4 linked regions of the Homo sapiens genome follow. The protein of the gene in region 3 interacts with the protein of the main gene of each other region in a pairwise test. Each region holds a gene or a part of one and is shown on either strand. Other genes may lie near its edges.

Region 1 (4,720 bases), on a different chromosome or scaffold from region 3:
AAGTTAAAAATGAAAACGTGCTTAATTGTGGAGAGTATCGTTTTTGGAATAGAGAAATAGTTCAGCAGTCTGATATTCTTCGAGTGAACAAAACTGGATTTGCTGGTTTTTATTATCTATTCATTAAGTCAACAATAATTTTATTATTAAGGAAGTGAGTTTGATGGGATAAAGAAGGAAAGACAGACAGACAGAAAGAGAGAAAGAGAGGGTGCTATAAATGGGAAGGAGTAAGTGAAAGAAAACGGAGAAAAGGAGGAGCAGAGGAGAGAGAAAAAATGAAGAACTATGATAAATGCTTTATACTTACTGTTTTTTTAAACCTTAGAACAAATTTGAGGTGTAAGTATTTTTGTCCTTTAACAAACTAGGAAAGAGGTTTAGAGAAGAAAATTTTTTTTAGGTTTAGAGAGGTAGAATAATATCCACCATTAACTACTTGCTACCAGCAGTCCTATAACAAAAATTTCCTGAGAACTGACTACTCTCAGTGTCAAGCCGTGATACAATCGTATTTTTTGTAACTGAGAAGACACTTAAGAAATTAGCAGGCTTCAATTTGTCTTTAAGCTGTTTAAAGGTACAGTTGTTCATTTATGATCCCCAGTATAAAAGTTATGTTTTTGTTTCAAGGTACTTTGAGTAAATTTGTCTGGCACAGATGCATATAAACTAACCCAAAAGAATAAATGAGTCAATAATATTCTGCGATAATGTATGACATTTATAATTTTTAGTAAAAAACATATTTTATGGAATTTCATTTTACCTATACTTGTTGTTTTTCTAAATATTAGAGCTTGTAAAGAAAATGTTAGTATATGCTTTCATGACATTTTGTTTCCTCTACATCTAGGCAGCAACAGTTACAAAAGAATTAAGAGAAAGCAGCTTGTTAAATCAACATGCATGTGCAGTAATGAAAAATTTTGGGACCCGAACTTTCCAAGCCATGTAAGTTCAAGTTCTATCTAGGGAAGAGGGTGAGAGCTACAGAACTACCATTTTGCAATTTGGGTTCGTTTTTTTAATTGTTGCTGTTTTAGAGAATGAAGACCCCTTTGTGACCCCTTTGATGAGGGCTAATGGGATTAGAACCATGAACTCTTAGGATCAGAAGGAAGCTAACGGATAAGTCAGTTTAACACTTACTAAAGCCTAGCTGAGATAATACATAGAAAAGACTTTTAAAGTTTATGTTATTTACCTGTTCTTTAAGACACTTAAGTTCTGGCCTGCCATCAAATTATACCTCATCACTAGACCATATTTTTCTAGCTCTTCTACAAAATAAGTCAGCCTTCACTGAGTGTCATTTAAAACTTTTGCCTTAACAAGAAATTCTTTATATTAATTGTGTTTCTTAATCTTCTATAAGGCTCTTTATAGCATTTATTGCTTCCCATAAAAATATTCCTTTGAGGCAATAATATTAGAATCTAGTGTCAGGAGAAAAGAACATTTTAAATTATATAACTTCTTTAAAGTACTCATCAACTCTTTTATGATAAAACATTTCTAGTATATGAAAATATCTGAGCTGCTAATCGAATAGTAGTAAGTATATATATTCAGAGTTTATTTGATTGCTGTTTGGTTAAATAACACGTTAAAGCATATTGTAGACAATGGAAATCTAGAATGAAGTTTTTAGTAATAGAATTAGTTCTAAAGACTGAAATTTCTTCTTGTAAGAAGTCAGATTTATGCCTTAACTACCCTCCAACTCAATTAGAAATTGAAAGATTAATTTATGACCTACTTTAAAAAAATTTATCTTAGTAATAAAATAGAAATTGAGATAGTATTATAATACCCTTATCATTTGCTATCCATAAGTGAAAGCTAAGTGGTCTAAATTTATAGAGAAGATCCATCTTTATCAGAAGCAGGAGTAACACTATTTTCTCTAGGAGCAATGGTTTTACAAAGACAACTCTTAAAATTTAATGAAATATGCAGAGGAAACCAGAATTTTTATTTCTTACTTCTTTTTTGGCCACATTACTCTCTTGGCACACTGGTATGCCTGAAATGTTTAATCTGCTCCACTTTCTTGTCCCATTTCATTGATTTGCACATACGCCTCCTTTCCTGGATTCTCAGAAGTATTTTTTACCCCAGTAAAAAATGGTTCTCATTTTCATGGAATTTTCCATTTCTTAATTGTTTATCCTTTTAAAGTTTTATGTCCACTCAATACAAATGCTCAGCATAAGGGTTGAATGGCAAAAATAATTTACCTTAATTCTTAAGACATGTTTTAGGAAAAGATAAATTATTTCTAAACCATTTGTGGGGCCAGCTCACAGTTTACAGAGCTACCACCTTGAAAGATATGGCTGGAATCAAGCCTTAAAACATGTTTCCTTTTCTTTTTAAACAACAAGGGAATTTCAGTCATTTCTCTTTGAAACTTCTACTGTAGTAATACTCTATAAATTCTATTTTATTTTGACAGATAACCAAGAAATTAATTTCTAATTTCTTTTTTTTCCCTAGAACTGTTACTAAACTGAGTCAGAAGTTTACCAAAGTTAATTTTACTGAAATCCAGAAACTAGTCCTGGATGTGGCCCATGTACATGAGCACTGTTGCAGAGGAGATGTGCTGGATTGTCTGCAGGATGGGGTGAAGAGTCTTGCTTCTTAAAATAGAAGATTTTCACTCCCTTTTCTTTCTTTTTGTCTCATTCTAAAAGGGAGAAGGTTGTTTGACTTGAATTGGTTACAGAGTATGTAAACTAGGTGACTCCTTAAATTTGCAGAATTCTCGGTAGTAAAACTTAAACCATCTTTTGTTGATCCTGGCTTTCACTTTAGCTATACCCCTTTTTGTGAAACCAAGGCTCATCTATTTCTTACTTCTAAAAAAACCGTGGGAACTTCTCAGAAGGCTTCTCCATAGTTACTTGGAGGACGGGAGGAAACTAAGGTTTAATGTATTTATTTTTTCATTCATTTATTCTTTCATTTGACAAATAAATATATATTAAATACTTTCTATCTGCTAGCCACTATGACAGACACTTGTTTTAAAAGCACAGGCTGACCTCAAGGAATTCACAGTCTGATAGGAGAGATAAGACAGTGACCTCCTTGGAGTTAGGGACTGCCTTGGTTTACTGTTATCTCCATAGCACAATGCCTGGCACATGGAAGGCATTCTATAATAGTTTGTTAAATGAACGAATGCAATAAAAATTGCACAAGTAACTGTCCTACCAGGTAAAAAGCTAGCCTTGCCAAAGACAAGTGTGAATAAAGTGGTCTCGGAGAATTAGAAAACAAAATTTAAAAAACCCAGCAACAGTTTCTTGAGTGTGCTCTAGTCAGTGGTGGTTTAAGCAGTGTGGCATTGGCTTATTTTGGCTAACCCTAGACTTCCTAGATTTTACAAGAGAGGACTGTTGACCCTCAGATTACTCTGTCTCTGTGGGCTCCATGACATACCAAAGAGATTAAAATCCAAGGAGCTTAAAAATTACTGCTCTTAGGTACTCAAATGGCTTGATAACCAGCACTGGACTATGGTTTCCAGAAGGCTGAAAGTGAAGATAAAATGCTCATTTCAGCCCATCCGATGGCAATTCAGTGAGATGCTTGAAGTAAGCAAGAAGCCAAGGCTGCAGAGGAGGCCTGAGAGTGACAGTCCCTGAGGAGCTGGGGAAGAAGTGGGAGGAGGCAGCCTGGCAGGCGACTGTACTACTTTACTTGTTTTTCTTCTAAAAATATGGCATACTAGGAAAACCAACAAGAAGTATTTTGTTTTTCTTTGAGCTCAGTTTTCCCATTTTGAACGGACAATTTTACTGTTTCTCGTTGTCATTTTTAAAAAGTTAATTTTTTCAATTTTTGGAGCTCATAACCACCCTTTTCCTTTAAAGTGGAAACATTAATTTCAGCATGATATGTAAGTTGGATTTTGATAGCTGAATAATGGGTTCTAATTATCTTTGCTGAGAATGTACAGAATTTTCAGTCCCATGACAGGTATATATGTAAGCTCTGCCTCTCTCTGGCCACTTAGGTGCATTGCCATTTTATTATCTATAGACTGCCCTCTGAAGGTCATAGTCAGTCACTGCAGTATGTTCTGATAAAGATGATTATCATTCTTACGGAATTTCTCGTGGAGCAGAAAGTTTGCTCTCCATGTTATGATAAAGATGATTATCATTCTTACGGAATTTCTCGTGGAGCAGAAAGTTTGCTCTCCATGTTATGATACCAGTTGCAAGTGTTGTTTAGGGGCAAATTTGAATGCTAATAGAAATACATATAGCAACATGCATCCTATTTTATTTGAGCACATTTCCCTCTTATTTGTAAAGGTTTTCAATTAAAATAACATAGGATTTAGCTTACAACTATGGAAAGAAGAATTGAACAAACAGGTAAGTGGAAAGGAATGAGAAAAGGCAAAAGTGGGGAGAAAGCACTAAAACGGGAGACAAGTTAAAATTTCTTTTTAATTGATAGGTCACGTTCTCACTCTATTTGCCTTTAAGGGAAGAAAGCAATCAAGTTAATATGTTTTCCTTCATTGTATAGTATGTAACTACGGACACTATTAGAGGAGGGATTTGTGTAGCACTTAGGACATTATACTTGATAATTTCCAAGGGTCTTTCTAGATTTAAAAGTCTGATTCTAACGTAGTAATAAAAATAAAGGCCCAATTTTCTCTTTAATATTGGCTGAAGATATTACTCTATTA
Region 2 (5,335 bases), on a different chromosome or scaffold from region 3:
TGTAGGGAAAGGTCACTCTAATGAGCGCCTAATTACCGAGTGAGCTCAGTGTTAGGAAGGAAAGGCACGGATGTGAGGACTCCCTAGAGGGTGGGGAAGATGTTGGAGCTGAGCTATGAAAGATGAAGAAATTGGTTATTCACTGAATGTCAGGGCACAGAATGTCAGGGCAGGAAGACCACACACACACACACACACACACACACACACACACACACACACACCCTACTATTCATAGATGAGGAAACTGAGGCCCAGCAGAGCTAGATGACTTGCCGAAGGTCAGAGCTAATTCTAGAAACCCATCCCCAATCCCTTCCTGCTAAACCACTTAATTTTATTTATATCCCAGCTATAGATTATACAAATACACTTGACAAATAAAACGGAGAATATTGAGTTAAAACCACATCTCTGAAGACCACACGCATAAATAACGATCGTGTTTTAATGCGGACGATACCTTTTCATTTTGCAAATCCAGAGTTCTCATCATATCAAAATTCAAGACAGTTTGTTCTGTAAGAAGGGGAAGGTCATAACCCTGTCTAGAATGTACTGGCAAATCTCTCTAACCGTGCAGTGCTAATTTGGGCCTGAGCTGTGTAACCAGACCGACTTCACGCTCCAGCTGGGGTTTCAGATCCACACATGGCGATTGGGTGGCTCTTTGCTGTTTCACAGCAAGGGTCCTTCCCTGGGCTCCCGGAGCCTCTGGGGATTTACTGCTCCCGACGTGGCCGTGTTCAAGCCACTGTGTGCATGCGCTTAATGTTGAAAACATTCTTTTGAAAAGCCCAGGAGATTCCACTCGCAATCTGTGCGTGTGCATGTAAAAGCGCAGAGACTGGAAAGAACCGCGGCAGAGCACACCCTGACCGAAGGTTACCGCGGGGGAGCCGCGGCCGTGGGAGAGCCGCGGCCGTGGGAGGGAGTGCGATACGGTCTTTTCACTCTAGACACTCCTGAGTTATGTACAATTCTACGCAAGAATGTATGCGTGTGTTAGCATGTAATACATATGTATTAGTTTTTTCAGGAAGATTCTTAAACAACAACAAAATCTCTATAGAACAAAGGTGCGTCTCCGCAGAGCGCAACAGCATTTGTCTTGGATGTAACCGCCTTCTCCAGAAATCTCAGAGGAACTCCCCTCGACCACCGCCTAACTGAAGGACACCGTGCGCTCCACCGCAACCCTGCGGGCGATTCGGAAAGTTGGAGGCGCCCCGGGGAGTCGCCGCACTTGCCGCCCGCGCCCCCTAACCTGAGCATTCAAGGAGTCTTGACTTGGCCGCTGGCGCACTCCGCACCCACCCAGCCGGTGCTGATGCGGGAGGGTGGGGCCGCGGCGGGGCGGGGCAACGCGAGCCCGCACCCCGCTCCTCCCCGCCCCTCCCTGCCGGCCCCGCCCGCGCGCGCCCCCCGCCCGCGGCCCGGGCGCCCGGCCCGCCCCCTCCCCTCGGCGCGCAAACGAACCTCGCGACGCCGCGCTCGGCGGCGGGCGGGGGCCGGGCGAGGGAGGGGGCTGGTCCCGGCCGCCCCACTCTGCAGTTGTCTCCCGAGCGCTGGCTGCGCCGCCCGAGCCGCTGGGCCGGGGAAGCACTGGCCGTTCGCTCCCGGGCCGGCTCCGCCAGGCGCTCGCAGGCATGCAGCCCGGGAGCAGGAGGCGCTCCCCGGGCCGCTGCTGAGCCGGCCGGGGCGGCGGGGACCAGCGCCAGCGGAGCCCCTCCCACCTTGCCCCGGGGCAGACGAGCGGCGCCCCGACACCCCCTCTTCTCCCGCAGCCCCGCCAGCGCCACCCCCCGCGGGCCGCAGGGGCTCATGCAGCCGCCAAGGTAAGCGCGGGTCGGGAGCCGGGCAGACCCGGCTCTGACATCTCCGAGGCGCCGCCGACACATGCCGGGGCCACGGCGCTGCTTTGGTCTTCCTTAGCCCCGCGTCTCATCTTGCTCCCATCTTGCCCACATTTGGAGCTTTGCTGCGCCTCTATCGCTTTAGCTGTTGGCAGCAGGAAAGTTTTTGTGGTTTGGTGTTTGTTCTTTTTTCCTAAAATACTCTCCCCCGGGCAGCCGCCAGCGCGCGTGGTTGGGCAGACCCGGCACACGTCCCTTACACCGTGTGCGGGCTGGGAGCTCCTTCCCTCAGCCCGGCTCGCGGAGCCCCGGACGGAGCCGGCCACCCGACTGTCCCGCCGTGAACCCCCATTGGCCCGCGCCGCCCGGGCCCCCGCCTCCCGCTCGACGCCCGGCTGCGGAGCTGCCTGGCCATCTCCTGCCCTCGGGGATGTCGGCGCAGTGCACCGCGTGGGCTCGCGTCCCGGCGGCCCTTTGCCTCGGCGCGCCGGCGTACGGGAAGGTGCGGACCTTGGATTGAGGGCCGAGGATGCCCATTGCCAAGCCGCCCCGGCTTTCCTAAGTGGACGGGAGGGCACGGCGACGATTCAGCGCCGGCTCGCGCCGCAGCTCAACCCAGGGTACAAGCCCGGGCATGGGGGACAGGTGTATTCAATGGGAGGGCGGGTGTGGGGGACGCTCGGGTGCAATTCGGGATTGCGTCTTATTAATGTAATTGTATTAGACTTGCTCGGAGGTAGAATCAGTTCTCCCAAATTGAGATTTCTAATGGGAGCCTGTGAGCTGCTATTATGTGGTGTGGTTTTGGGAGGTGTTGGGTTGTATTTATTTTATAAATTGGGTGTCTCGCGGGCGGAGTAGGGGAAGTAGCGCCATCTAGCGGAAGTGGTGAGCTGTGCATTCCTCTTAGGCTGCGAAGTTGTTGGGTGTTCTCAAAGTAGTCTCCCGCACAAGGTGGAGAGGCGGGAACCAGCCCTCGCCTCCAGGAAGGAGGCTACAGAAGCTCTCTGAGTATCGACGGTACCAGGGAGAACCCCGACCTCCCATGCTCAGCACATTGAGCTCAGGGGACGAAATTGCGGGTCGTGTTGAGTGGCATGCTGTCACCTAAAGGAGCTCCATCACCTTCTCTGTTTGGTTTTAGACTCTTCCAGCAAAAACGTAATATAAAATGTTAACTGCTGTAAGAAGATGCCCCTTCCGCAGGTATCTGGTGCAGAGATCTTGAAAACCAATGCACAAACCTCTGTCTTCTCCTGTGCATCACAAACGGGTGATTTCTTGGGTGGATTTTGAGCCATGACCCCTAGAAAAGAGAGTAACTGTGCTCCGAAGGGCAACAGGAGGAGAACTGGGAGAGGGCCTCCTGCCCATTTGTGCAGGAACAGAATAGTGTACCCAAACTGGGTTTTGTGGTTTTTTTTTTTTTTTTTTTTGCACATACAAAGAAGGGGTTTCTTGCTGTTACCACAGCAAGTGACAAGCAAGCCCCCTTTACAGGGACATGATCTCCAATTAACAACTGGGGCAGACGTGGCTGGATGGCAAGTTCTGCAGACAAAGGCTCTGGGTGGGGCACCCACACATCCAGGCGGGCTCCACGTTCTCTGTGGCTGGTTTTTGCTGCCACCTTCCAGGCCAGATAATATATTAGCAGTGAGCTGGGCTCACCCGGTTCTGAAGGGCACCCTGGCCCCTTGTAGAGCAGTGTAGTGGTCTACTGTAGTACCCCCTTGAGACTCTCTGGGCTGTGCTGGTAGTGAAAGAGGTCTTAGCCTCCTTTTTTCAAGTACCCTGCTTCCATTATTTCCCTCCCAGGTGTCAGACAGTTGCTTACATTCTCCAATAGACATATGAAATGGTGGGTGGCTGGTCTGCCCCGTCATGCTGTCTCAAACTGTGTCTCCATTGGTAGGTATTTATGTCATCATGAGACTTGTGACAGACGAGGTCTTAGAATAGCTTGGCATCTCATTCAAGGAGGGCACCTTTGACTTTTGCTAAGAAACCTCTGCCTGCTTTCTCTTTTTACAAACCTCCTCCAAGGAATAACTTGCTGCTTCCCAGTGTATGTAATAATAGACAATAAAGGCACAAGAATCTCCTTTTTAATACAATCCCTTGCTCTTCAGCAGCCCTGTGAGAAGCCAAGCCCAAGAATTCTTAGACGAGCAGTTGCAAAATGAAATAAATAGGGACTGAGCATCCCTGACACTGGGACAGGGAGTTTTTCAGCCATTCTTCCAGGGATGCTTGCTGCTCCCAGGAAGCAGGCAGGAATGGGTGCTGGTATTTTCAGTTTCTCAGAAGAAACTGATGGCCAGAAAGCAGAAGGGATATGGCCAGTGTTCTGTGAGTCTAAAGTGCGTTTTTCCCCCTACAACCTTGCTACCAAATGAATTAAGTTCTAGCGCTTGTTTTTACCAAGTATGGTTGCAAAATTTGTTCCTGCCTTGAAGCATGCAGTATAGACATGAAAGAAGGCACGGTCACCGATCCATCAAGAAGCCTGCCATCCAGGGAAAGAGGCAGGAAGTATCCAAGTGCAATTGAGCAAAAACATAGAAGGATTATCTGAAAGCAGCGCAGGCAAATTGGAATCTGTTAGTTCTGTGAAACGAAATGACACTACTCCTTACAGGTAATTATTCTAGAACTTGACTTATAACATCCCAAAGGTAAGTTTAGTTAACTTTTAAGTGTCTGTGGTGTTCCTGTGGCTCTTTTAGGGAATGGCTTTGCTTCCATTATGTAGCCATTCCACAAACTTAACTGAACATAAATTTAACCTGAAGAAGGGAAGCTCCAGGTTTCCCCACCTGTTTGGTATCCAGCCTATCCAAAAGACAGGCTCCTCTTTTTCTTATTTTGAGCAAATGACTGCTCAGTTTCAGCCTCTCTTCTCTTAGCAACAGAGCTATAAAGGAGCAATGAATAGGGCAGTGGAAAAAATTAAGGATTGCCTTACCCAAGTATGCATACAAGGCCAGGCAGAAGTCAGTTTCCTTGGTGACAGATGAACAAATGAACTCTATTGAAAGGATACCCAGTTTCTTAGCCAGGTCCGTCCTGTGAGTAGAAGTGCTGTATCATGTTAGAACCCAGGGGTCAGGAGGCAAGAATGCCTAGTGAGGTGTGAAACTTTACAATTCTTAGGGCAGGAAGAAGAAGGAATTTTAAAAGTAGGGCAGAAATTGACAAAATAAATGCAAATGTCTTTTATAACCTCATATAAAAAGTTTTAAGTCACTGGTAACTGACTAACATAAAAATGTACTATGTACCTACCCAACTTACGAAATGATTATATCCAGATTACCACAGTAAATAATGGAAGTGTAGCAAACAGTTTATGCAGAGAGTGACTACAGAATTGCTGGTTGGATTTACTTTTCTCATTTTTCAGTTGCTTGTTTAAAGCAGTGCTATGAGGTGAAGAACTTTCAGAAAGCAAAATACTGGATTTCCCAGAGCCTGAA
Region 3 (5,100 bases):
TATCGCTGGCTGCAATATCCCAGGGGAGAGGCAAGCCTTCCCTAGCACCGGCTTCTCTCCCAGCTTATTAGCATCTCCTTGCCATTCCCTGAAGGAGCTCACTGCAGGGCAGACCTTCCTGGCTAATGAAAGCTGCCTAGCAACAGGGAGCTGGTTAATAAAGCCTGATGTTATTCCCGGCTCCACAGATTCCACCCTTCTCGAATTACAGCTCATCCTCAGTCTGAAGCAACCCTCATGTTGACCCACTTGCACACAGCAGGGCAGGGAATCTGGTGACTGAGGAGGCAGGCTGGTGTCTGCCCCAATCCCTGGGGGGTGGGGAGGCTGAGGTCCTGGGAGATATGATTGGCCTGAGAACCTGCTCTGCCTGGCCAGAAGCCTCTCTGTGAGCCTCTGAAACCTGCTCTACCAGCCAAAGGTTAAAATGCAAACTCAGTGCCCAATCGGAATAGGGTAAATAAAACACTATGGACCTCGGGCGGTGGTATGCACCTGTAATCCCAGTTACTTGGGATGCCAAGGCAGGAGCATACCTGGAGCCCACGAGTTTGAGACCAATCTTGGCAACATAGCAAGACCTCATCTGGAAAAAAAAAAAAAGAAAAAACAAAAGCACCTTCCCCTCCAGGGGAGGGGGCGACAGGAGATACCAGCCTATACTTTAATTCAACAGTAAGTCTTTATATTAAAATGAAAAAAAATCCAAAAACCATATGATAGAGAAAAATGTAAACTTGATGTGATGTTTTAAGATAAAAAGGATAAAAGGATATATCAAAGACCTCTCCCCAACAGTGGTAGTTTTTGGATTTTGTTTAAAAAAAAAAAAAAAAAATGAGGCCGGGTGTGATGGTTCACACCTGTAATCCCAGCACTTTGGGAGGCCAAGGTGGGCAGATCACCTGAGGTCAGGAGTTCGAGACCAGCCTGGCCAACATGGTGAAACCCCTGTCTCTACTAAAAATACAAAAATTAGCTAGGTGTGGTGGCAGGCACCTGTAATCCCAGCTACTCAGGAGGCTGAGGCAGGAGAATTGCTTGAACCTGAGAGGCGGAGGTTGCAGTGAGCTGAGATAGCACCACAGAACTCCAGCCTGGGCAGCAGAGTGAGACTCCGTCTCTAAATAAATAAATAAATAAACAAACAAACGAGACAGGGTCTCTCTCTCTCTCTGTTGCCCAAGCTGGAGGGCAGTGGTGCAATCATAGCTCACTGCAGCCTCAACCTCCCGGGCTCAAGTGATCCTCCTACCTCAGCCTCTGGAGTAGCTGGGACTACAGGCGTGCACCACCATGCCCAGCGAGTTATTTATTTTTTTGTAGAGACTGCATCCTGTAATATTGCCCAGGCTGGTCTCAAGCTTCTGGTCTCAAGGGATCCTCCCGCCTCAGCCTCCCAGAGCACTGGGATTGCAGGTGTGAGTCACCATGCCTGGCCCCATAGTGGTAGTTTTGAGTCCATTCTCCTAGCGCCACCCTCCACTGGCACGGAGGTGGCAGTTACATAGGTTCTGATCCTCGGGCCTGGGAACAGCACACAGAGAACCCCACCCACCCCCCTGCTGCCGCCAGACTGGTTTGCCAGCGAAAACTTCCACACAAGGAAAGTTTCTACTCGCAGGGGCCTACTGCATGTCCAGCTTCTGGACAGACAGGTTTAGGAACAACCACAGCAAACACTCAACAAAGCAATTTTCTAGCCAGTCCTAGGAGTCTTGCCCCTCCCGTTGGGTAACAGGAATGGGGATCTGGCTGCAAACTTTCCTGGGTTTGCCCATGGTCAGGTCTTGACACAGTGATTCTTCAGGAAGGCTCTCCAGGAAGGCTCTGTGTTTTCTGTTTAAATGTCTGCATTCTAAGAAGCTCAGAGAAGCTTGTATTGCCTAGGCCTGGCTCTCCTCAGTCACCCCCAACCCTCCTCTGCCAAGAACCATGGGTCGGTGTGGAGTTGAGGGGCCCAGTACACAAGGGTCCCTTGAAACTAGGGACCGTGGTGTCGCTAGGCTGGTAATCCAGTCTCCACAGACTTCACTCTGCTCTTGACCTCTCAGCACGTTCTCTATACTCCCATTTCTCCCACAACAAAGCTGAATTCGGACGTGGCTAGGACAGTAGCAAGGCACAGTTTAAGTCTGGATCAACTTCAGACTAAAAATGCATTTCAGAGCATTTTTCCAGGGACTGAGGGAGACTGGCACATCAGAATCTCCAAAAAGGCAGAGAGGGGTGGTGTTTTTGATCCATACCTTGCTAGTCTTCCCTCCCCGTCCCCCGCAAGAGTCTCTCGTGATTCCACCATGCAATGCAAGGAAGCTGCTTTGCAGGCAGAGGAAAAAGGTTGATAATCAATGCTTTCAACGAGCCTCAGTTTCAGCCCAAATTGGGATTTAGCTCACCACTGAGCACCAATTTTGACAAAGCATAAGGATTTCTCTGTCTGTAGGCCCTGAGATACCCTGGCCTGACTTAGCCCGATACTGTTGGAACCTCTCCTGCTCCTGTTCTCCGTGACTGTACCGAACCCAAAACAGAGGCTGCACACTGGCAGAGGCTGGCAGATGTCTTTTGTGTGGCCCACACAATTTTTTTTTAAATGGGAATTAGCTGTCAGTATTTAAAAAGTAGGAATTTTTTTTTTTTTTTTTTTTTGAGACAGAGTCTCGCTCTGTCACCCAGGCTGGAGTGCAGTGGCGCGATCTTGGCTCACTGCAAGCTCCGCCTCCCGGGTTCACGCCATTCTCCTGCCTCAGCCTCCTGAGTAGCTGGGACTACAGGCGCCCGCCACCACGCCTGGCTAATTTTTTGTATTTTTAGTAGAGACGGGGTTTCACCGTGTTAGCCAGGATGGTCTCGATCTCCTGACCTCGTGATCCGCCCACCTCCACCTCCCAAAGTGCTGGGATTACAGGCGCCCGCCACCACGCCCTGCTAATTTTTGTATTTTTAGTAGAGACGGGGTTTCACCAAGTTGGCCAGGCTGGTCTCGAACTCCTGACCTCAGGTGATCCACCTGCCTCACCTCCCAAAGTGCTGGGATTACAGGCGTGAGCCACTGTGCCCGGCCGAGAATTCTAATACTCTTCAAAGTTGCTTATCATAATACTGGCATGCCTTTTTTTTTTCCAGAGCATAGGTTCTGCTGAGAAAAACTGAGGTCAGGCTGTGTCTTGTAAACCTAGGAATCATTATTCCACCATCTCAAAGAACTGGGGAAACCTTCCCAAACGGACATGGTATGAACTCAAGTCCTACAAACCTACCTTCAGCCTCAACAGCCAAAGGAGGAGAGACGAATATTCTTTGAGTGCTTACAATGCTACGAACGAATGAACATTTACACACATCATCTCAATCCCCACGAAAGTTCCTTGAGGTGGGAATCATCAGTCTGTTTTTAGAGGAGCAAACTGAGGGTGAGAGAAGTTAAGAAACTTGTCCAAGACGACTTAAAAGGCAGGACGCCAGGATTCAAACCCCAGTCTGTCACTCAGACTCTGCTCAGAGGCTGCCTCTCCGACTGCCCTCCCACATGTTTTTTCTTCCTAGCTCTTATCACATGCCAAGTTATTGGATGACATATTTACTTGCGCATTTGTTTCCTGTCTGTCTCCCCAACAGAATGTAAGCTCCTGCGGCAGAGACTCTGTCCATCTTGTCACTGCCATTTCCTTGCACGGTGAACGGTGTCTGGCACCTGGTGAGCCCTTGGTGGGGATCTGCTGCTGGATGAGGGGAAGGGCAGCTGTATCTGCTGTGCCACACTACCGTCCAAAGCATCCCTTCCCTTATCTGTTCTTTCATTATTTTCCCTCCACAAACCCCAACACCAATCTCAGAGGCCAAGGAATACAACACAGAGAAGGTGAATGGTTCCCTGTCCCTTCAGATGGGGGGTTGAGAGGAAGCTGAAATTCCTAGAAATCCAAGAAGAGTCTGTGCGTAGGGATAGGCTTGCTCCTACAAAGCAAAAGTCTTCAGGCTGAGGAGGCGGAAATGGTTTATAAGCGACTCTCTCCTTTCTGGGGCTGGAAGGCTTGGCCACACTGAGAAGGAGGTGATGAGAGAGTCCCTTCTGAGGCTGGAAGCCTTAGCCACCTCTCCTAGCCCACGCTCAGGCTCCTTTGCATCCAGTCAAGGGCTTGGGGTTAGGATCATGGAGCAACACGGGTGGGAAACAAAGGGAAAGTGGCACAGAGCATCCGAAAAGCACAAACCCCTCCCTGAAGTCAAAATCAAAATCAGTCAGAGCACTGGTTCCTGAACTCAAATGACCTAGGGCAGCGGCTCTCAAAGTGGGGTCCCCAGACCTACTAGAATCAGAAACTCCAGGGTTGGGACCCAGAAATCTGTGTTCTACCAAGCCCTTCAGGTGACTCTGATACATGCTAAAATGTGAGAATTACTATCCTGGGGAACAAAAAATACGCAGATTCTTGACCCCTGAAGAACCTGATTTAGTAGGTCTGCAAATGGGGCCAAAGAGGATTTCAAAAGCTTCCAGGTTGATTTGGACTTGCAGCCAGATTTGAGAGCTACTGCACCTGAGGACTCATCTTTTCCTGGCCCCAGGCCAGTGTCCTCGGCTCTAGACCGACCTCCCATCATCCTTCAGTCACTCACTCACCACATAAAGCAATGATGTGGCTGCTGTCTTCATGCACAAACTTCCTGGTGACAGCCTCCTCCATGATTTGCTTCACCTGCGGACACATGGACAGCATCACTGCTTTTATTATTTTCCCTTATCAAAGACCTCTGGGCAAATAAATAGTTTGGTTCCGCCCTTCTGGTCTGAAGGGCACTTTCAGACACTTGCAGAGATGACAGGGATGAAAGGTGTGGGGAAGCAAAGTTTCTTCAGCACAGTCTGATTCCAGTCTTTTGGAGGGGAAACCAGGGAAAGAGATGCCAAAAACCCATCAAACAATCAGTGCATGTTCCAGCCCAGGTGGAAGTGCCCTGCCTTGGAGAACAGGAATAGGATGCTGTTTGCTCATCTGTTCTCAGCTCACGAAGGGCTTCTGGGCAGATATACTGTCCTTTAGAGACAAACCATCTCGGTACAGCCTGCAGATAAACAACCTGCCCCTCCTCCTT
Region 4 (4,720 bases), on a different chromosome or scaffold from region 3:
TGAGCAGAGTAGGGAGAATAGGCTTCCCTGTCCTTGGGGACAGCTCTTCTCCCTGCCTGCTCTGCTAACCCTCACAGCAGCCCGGTGCCACCTGGGGAAGCCAGACCAGGAACCCCCAGGGCCCAGCCTTGGACCAGGGAGGCTCTGCAGGTTCAATGTGAGATTGCAGAAAAAGACAATCGGAAAAGCACACGGCTGATGGCTCCTGGGGAATCAGCTAGACTTGGGCCATACGACAGGAGAAGGGGCAGTGAGCAAAACCTCACCCTGCAGCCTCAGATCTGGTTCCCCAGGCTGTTAAGGGCCCCAAGGGAGAGTCCTTGGCCCCCTGCTGGCATCTTACACTTGACCAGGGCTCTCCCAGGGCCTCAGCCACCACTGTGGGTTCTATGGGCACAGGATCTTCTGTGTCAGGCTGGGTGGCCACCATCTGTACAACTGTGGCTCCCAGTGTGAGTTAGAACAAATACCCCTTCTTCCTCCAAGACACACACACATGCTAGAAGTTTCCATTGAGATGAGAAAACCACCAGACAGAAGGGTACCTGTAAATCTACACTTTCTTTAGACAAAGGACCTGATTAGGAGAATGGGGAATGGCTGTGGGAACCTTGGAAAAAACAGGCTGAGGGTTTTCAGGGGAGACTTCATGACTGGGATCCTCTGCTCACTCAAGACAATGGATTCTCATGTGATTTTCCCCCCAGGAGGTGGCTAGTAGGCTGACTGTGAGACTTAGGTAGCTGGGCACGGGTTCAGCCACACTGAGGACTTCTCTCTCACCTTATTTATCCTCAACAGTAACTTGCTGGTTGAAGCCGTAATACCCTGGTTCCATGGAGCAGAGAAGTGGGGCTGATGTGGTGAAGGCGTTTGTCCAGGAGGGACAAAGCAAAAATAGAACCAAACCATGATGACAAGCTGATGGGCTGGGGGAGAAGTCTGGTGATGGATTCCTTGCTTAGGAAGTGAGGCAGGTACCAGGGACATGGACAGGAGCCTGCCCAAGCAGGCTTTGATCCCTACCTTTCTTCATCTTTCCTCTTTGGCCATGTTGTATTAAAAACTGAAATCTTGGCTGGGCGCCGTGGCTCACACCTGTAATCCCCATAGTTTGGGAGGCCGAGGCAGGTGGATCACTTGAGATCAGGAGTTCGAGACCAGCCTGGTCAACATGGCAAAACCCCATCTCTACTAAAAATACAAAAATTAGCCAAGCGTTGTGGTGCACGCCTGCAGTCCCAGCTGCTCGGGAGGCTGAGGCATGAGAATTGCTTGAACCCAGGAGGTGGAGGTTGCAGTGAGCCAAGATTGTGCCACTGCACTCCAGCATGTGTGACAGAGCGAGACTCTGTCTCAAAAAAAACACAAACAAACAAACAAACAAAAACTCAAGTGAAGTCTTGCCCTAGCCAGGAAACTGTTGTGATAAAGGAGCATCGGGGCCGGGCGCAGGGGCTCACGCCTATAATCCCAACACTTTGGAAGGCCAAGGCAGGTGGATAATGAGGTCAGGAGTTCAAGACCAGCCTGGCCAAGATGGTGAAACCCTGTCTCTACTAAAAATCCAAAAATTAGCTGGGTGTGGTGGCAGGTGCTTGTAATCCCAGCTACTTGGGAGACTGAGGCAGAGAATTGCTTGAACCCAGGAGGCGGAGGTTGAAGTGAGCCAAGATCGCACCACTGCATTCCAGCCTGGGCGGCAGAGCGAGATTCCATCTCAAAAAAAAAAAAAAAAGGAGCATCGGAAGGAGGGATTGCAGTATGAATTCCCTAGATGGGCAATTTCCTGTACTTCATCAGGCAATCCCTGAGCCAAGGGTGGACATCCCTAGAGGTCTGTCAGCCTAAGACCAAACAAATGGTAGAGCGTCTCTCAACACGCTGCTCAAATCCAGTGTGGTTTGACTCTAGAGTAACCTCGTCTTTTCCTCTCCCCTTTTAAGTGCAAGTCTGTACTGCGGCAGGACTGAGTCTGGGTATGTGGCTGGGCAGCCAGCCGTGCATGCTGCAGCTGGGTGATCACTGTGATTCTTGGTGTGATCCAAGCCCGTCCTCTCTGCTTCTCTGTACTATTGCTCTGGCTCCTGGCCCTCTCCTTGCTATGGGTCTTACCCTCAAGTCGCTCTGTGATTCAAAGATGAACTGCCAATCAAATGTTCCTCTAATGAAAGATCCAATCACTCTACAGCATGTGTGTATTCAAAGAACCTATCTAAGACTTTCTTTTGGTCATGGTGGGAGGCTGTTGCTGAAAACATACCAGAGCCCATTGTGGAGGTCAGCTGACAGGCCGCATGACCTTGGCAATGGACTACTGGTCATCTGGGACTGCTTAGGACTGTGCAATGGAACTTGGGGGCAAAACTGATGGAGACAGCCAATGGGCCTTAAATCCAGCAGGCAAAGACAGAGTAAGTTCTTATTTGTGTAGCCCAGGGCTTATCAAAGTGTGGTTCTTGGACCACGTGCATCAGTATCAGCTGTAAGTATTTGGCAAAATGCAGATTCCCGGGCCCTGCACCAAACAGATTGACTTTGAATCTCTGGGGGTTGGGCTAAAAAAAAAAAAAAAACCCTACATTTTAAACAAGCTCTTCAGATGACCCTTGTGTAAGTTTGAGAGCATCTGCTGGAAAACCACTAGAATTTGCAAACGGCCACCTCAAAATACTCCAGCCAGTCCCACTAAGCCAAAGACCAGAATCTGAGAACAGGGATGGGGAAATTATTCCTTTCTGTGGATGATTATGCAGCTGGGCCATGATTTCACACCCGGGGGCCATGGGCTAAGATGGAGGGGAAGGAAGGAATGTAATGTGTGCCCTCTACCTCTTCACCAGGCATCATCCTCTCACTGGCCCTGGCTGGCATTCTTGGCATCTGTATTGTGGTGGTGGTGTCCATTTGGCTTTTCAGAAGGAAGAGGTGAGCTGGTTTGGGTCCAAAATGGGAATGGACAGCTATGTGTCCATGATGATTAGTCTGCCTGGGAAGGCAGCTTTGTGGCATGAAGAGCCGCAGTCACCTGGACCACCACTTACCCTAGGAGGGCCGTCCCCAAAGCACCCGTGCCCTGGCCTCCTTTGCATGAGACGCACATGTGACCCTGGTCGTTCAAAGGGTTCAGGGGTCACTGTGCTCAGATTTGGAAGCGTGTGTGCCTTGCTTGCTGCTATTGCATGGCCTTGGACGAGTCTCTTGACTTGGGGCTTGTGCCTGAAGTTAAGCAGCCAGGCTGTCTTCTTATCAAGATCTTTACATATGCTTTTTGGTCTATGAATTCAAAAAGAAAGATGAAGGAAAACCTGATCTCTCACTCACATTAACTCTTCATGCCCTTTGTCCATGTTTTTATTGTGACATTTGGCTTTTCCTAAAACCTAATTTATTTGGGGGGGGTATGAAAAATAAAAAGGTTTCTGGGAACCCTGTTATGGAATCAGAGGTTTGAAGAGGGGGGTGACAACGAGACCTCTTTCAAAATATAGGTCTACTACTGTTAGGTGTGAAAGAGAACAGTTGGAAAACGAACAAGTTCTGTTTTTGTTAAAGCTTTATTTGGTGACACTCCCTCCCAAGACCAACAGAATTGGGGAAAGGTCCCAAAGAGAGGAATCCAACTTTTAAAAACGGCCTCATTCCATACCTGAGTCAGGCTGCTCTCTGGCTCGCTCGCTCTCCTCTCTAACAAGAGTTATGTGTTCTTTCTGTTCTAGTATCAAAAAAGGTGATAACAAGGGAGTCATTTACAAGCCAGCCACCAAGATGGAGACTGAGGCCCACGCTTGAGGTCCCCGGAGCTCCCGGGCACATCCAGGAAGGACCTTGCTTTGGACCCTACACACTTCGGCTCTCTGGACACTTGCGACACCTCAAGGTGTTCTCTGTAGCTCAATCTGCAAACATGCCAGGCCTCAGGGATCCTCTGCTGGGTGCCTCCTTGCCTTGGGACCATGGCCACCCCAGAGCCATCCGATCGATGGATGGGATGCACTCTCAGACCAAGCAGCAGGAATTCAAAGCTGCTTGCTGTAACTGTGTGAGATTGTGAAGTGGTCTGAATTCTGGAATCACAAACCAAGCCATGCTGGTGGGCCATTAATGGTTGGAAAACACTTTCATCCGGGGCTTTGCCAGAGCGTGCTTTCAAGTGTCCTGGAAATTCTGCTGCTTCTCCAAGCTTTCAGACAAGAATGTGCACTCTCTGCTTAGGTTTTGCTTGGGAAACTCAACTTCTTTCCTCTGGAGACGGGGCATCTCCCTCTGATTTCCTTCTGCTATGACAAAACCTTTAATCTGCACCTTACAACTCGGGGACAAATGGGGACAGGAAGGATCAAGTTGTAGAGAGAAAAAGAAAACAAGAGATATACATTGTGATATATTAGGGACACTTTCACAGTCCTGTCCTCTGGATCACAGACACTGCACAGACCTTAGGGAATGGCAGGTTCAAGTTCCACTTCTTGGTGGGGATGAGAAGGGAGAGAGAGCTAGAGGGACAAAGAGAATGAGAAGACATGGATGATCTGGGAGAGTCTCACTTTGGAATCAGAATTGGAATCACATTCTGTTTATCAAGCCATAATGTAAGGACAGAATAATACAATATTAAGTCCAAATCCAACCTCCTGTCAGTGGAGCAGTTATGTTTTATACTCTACAGATTTTACAAATAATGAGGCTGTTCCTTGAAAATGTGTTGTTGCTGTGTCCT

The links. Proteins that work in one complex are often made in the same cells at the same time.
Region 1: the proteins of SGSM2 (region 3) and AFP interact in a two-hybrid assay, tested with the Homo sapiens proteins (one large-scale study listed by BioGRID and IntAct).
Region 2: the proteins of SGSM2 (region 3) and RGMA interact in a two-hybrid assay, tested with the Homo sapiens proteins (one large-scale study listed by BioGRID and IntAct).
Region 4: the proteins of SGSM2 (region 3) and CA12 interact in a two-hybrid assay, tested with the Homo sapiens proteins (one large-scale study listed by BioGRID and IntAct).

Annotation. Positions count from the first base shown.
Region 1 is NC_000004.12:73,442,491-73,447,210, forward strand, and holds part of AFP (alpha-fetoprotein isoform 1 precursor), read left to right. Parts: intron 1-856; coding exon 857-954; intron 955-2,502; coding exon 2,503-2,632; intron 2,633-4,720. UniProt on the Homo sapiens protein: Binds copper, nickel, and fatty acids as well as, and bilirubin less well than, serum albumin. Only a small percentage (less than 2%) of the human AFP shows estrogen-binding properties.
Region 2 is NC_000015.10:93,085,422-93,090,756, reverse strand, and holds the start of RGMA (repulsive guidance molecule A isoform 3 precursor), read left to right. Parts: upstream 1-1,545; 5' UTR 1,546-1,824; coding exon 1,825-1,838; intron 1,839-2,233; exon of another isoform or gene 2,234-2,476; intron 2,477-5,335.
Region 3 is NC_000017.11:2,343,148-2,348,247, reverse strand, and holds part of SGSM2 (small G protein signaling modulator 2), read right to left. Parts: intron 4,704-5,100; coding exon 4,628-4,703; intron 3,726-4,627; coding exon of another isoform or gene 3,588-3,725; intron 1-3,587.
Region 4 is NC_000015.10:63,325,357-63,330,076, reverse strand, and holds part of CA12 (carbonic anhydrase 12 isoform 1 precursor), read left to right. Parts: intron 1-1,946; coding exon 1,947-1,979; intron 1,980-2,843; coding exon 2,844-2,928; intron 2,929-3,719; coding exon 3,720-3,792; 3' UTR 3,793-4,720. UniProt on the Homo sapiens protein: Reversible hydration of carbon dioxide.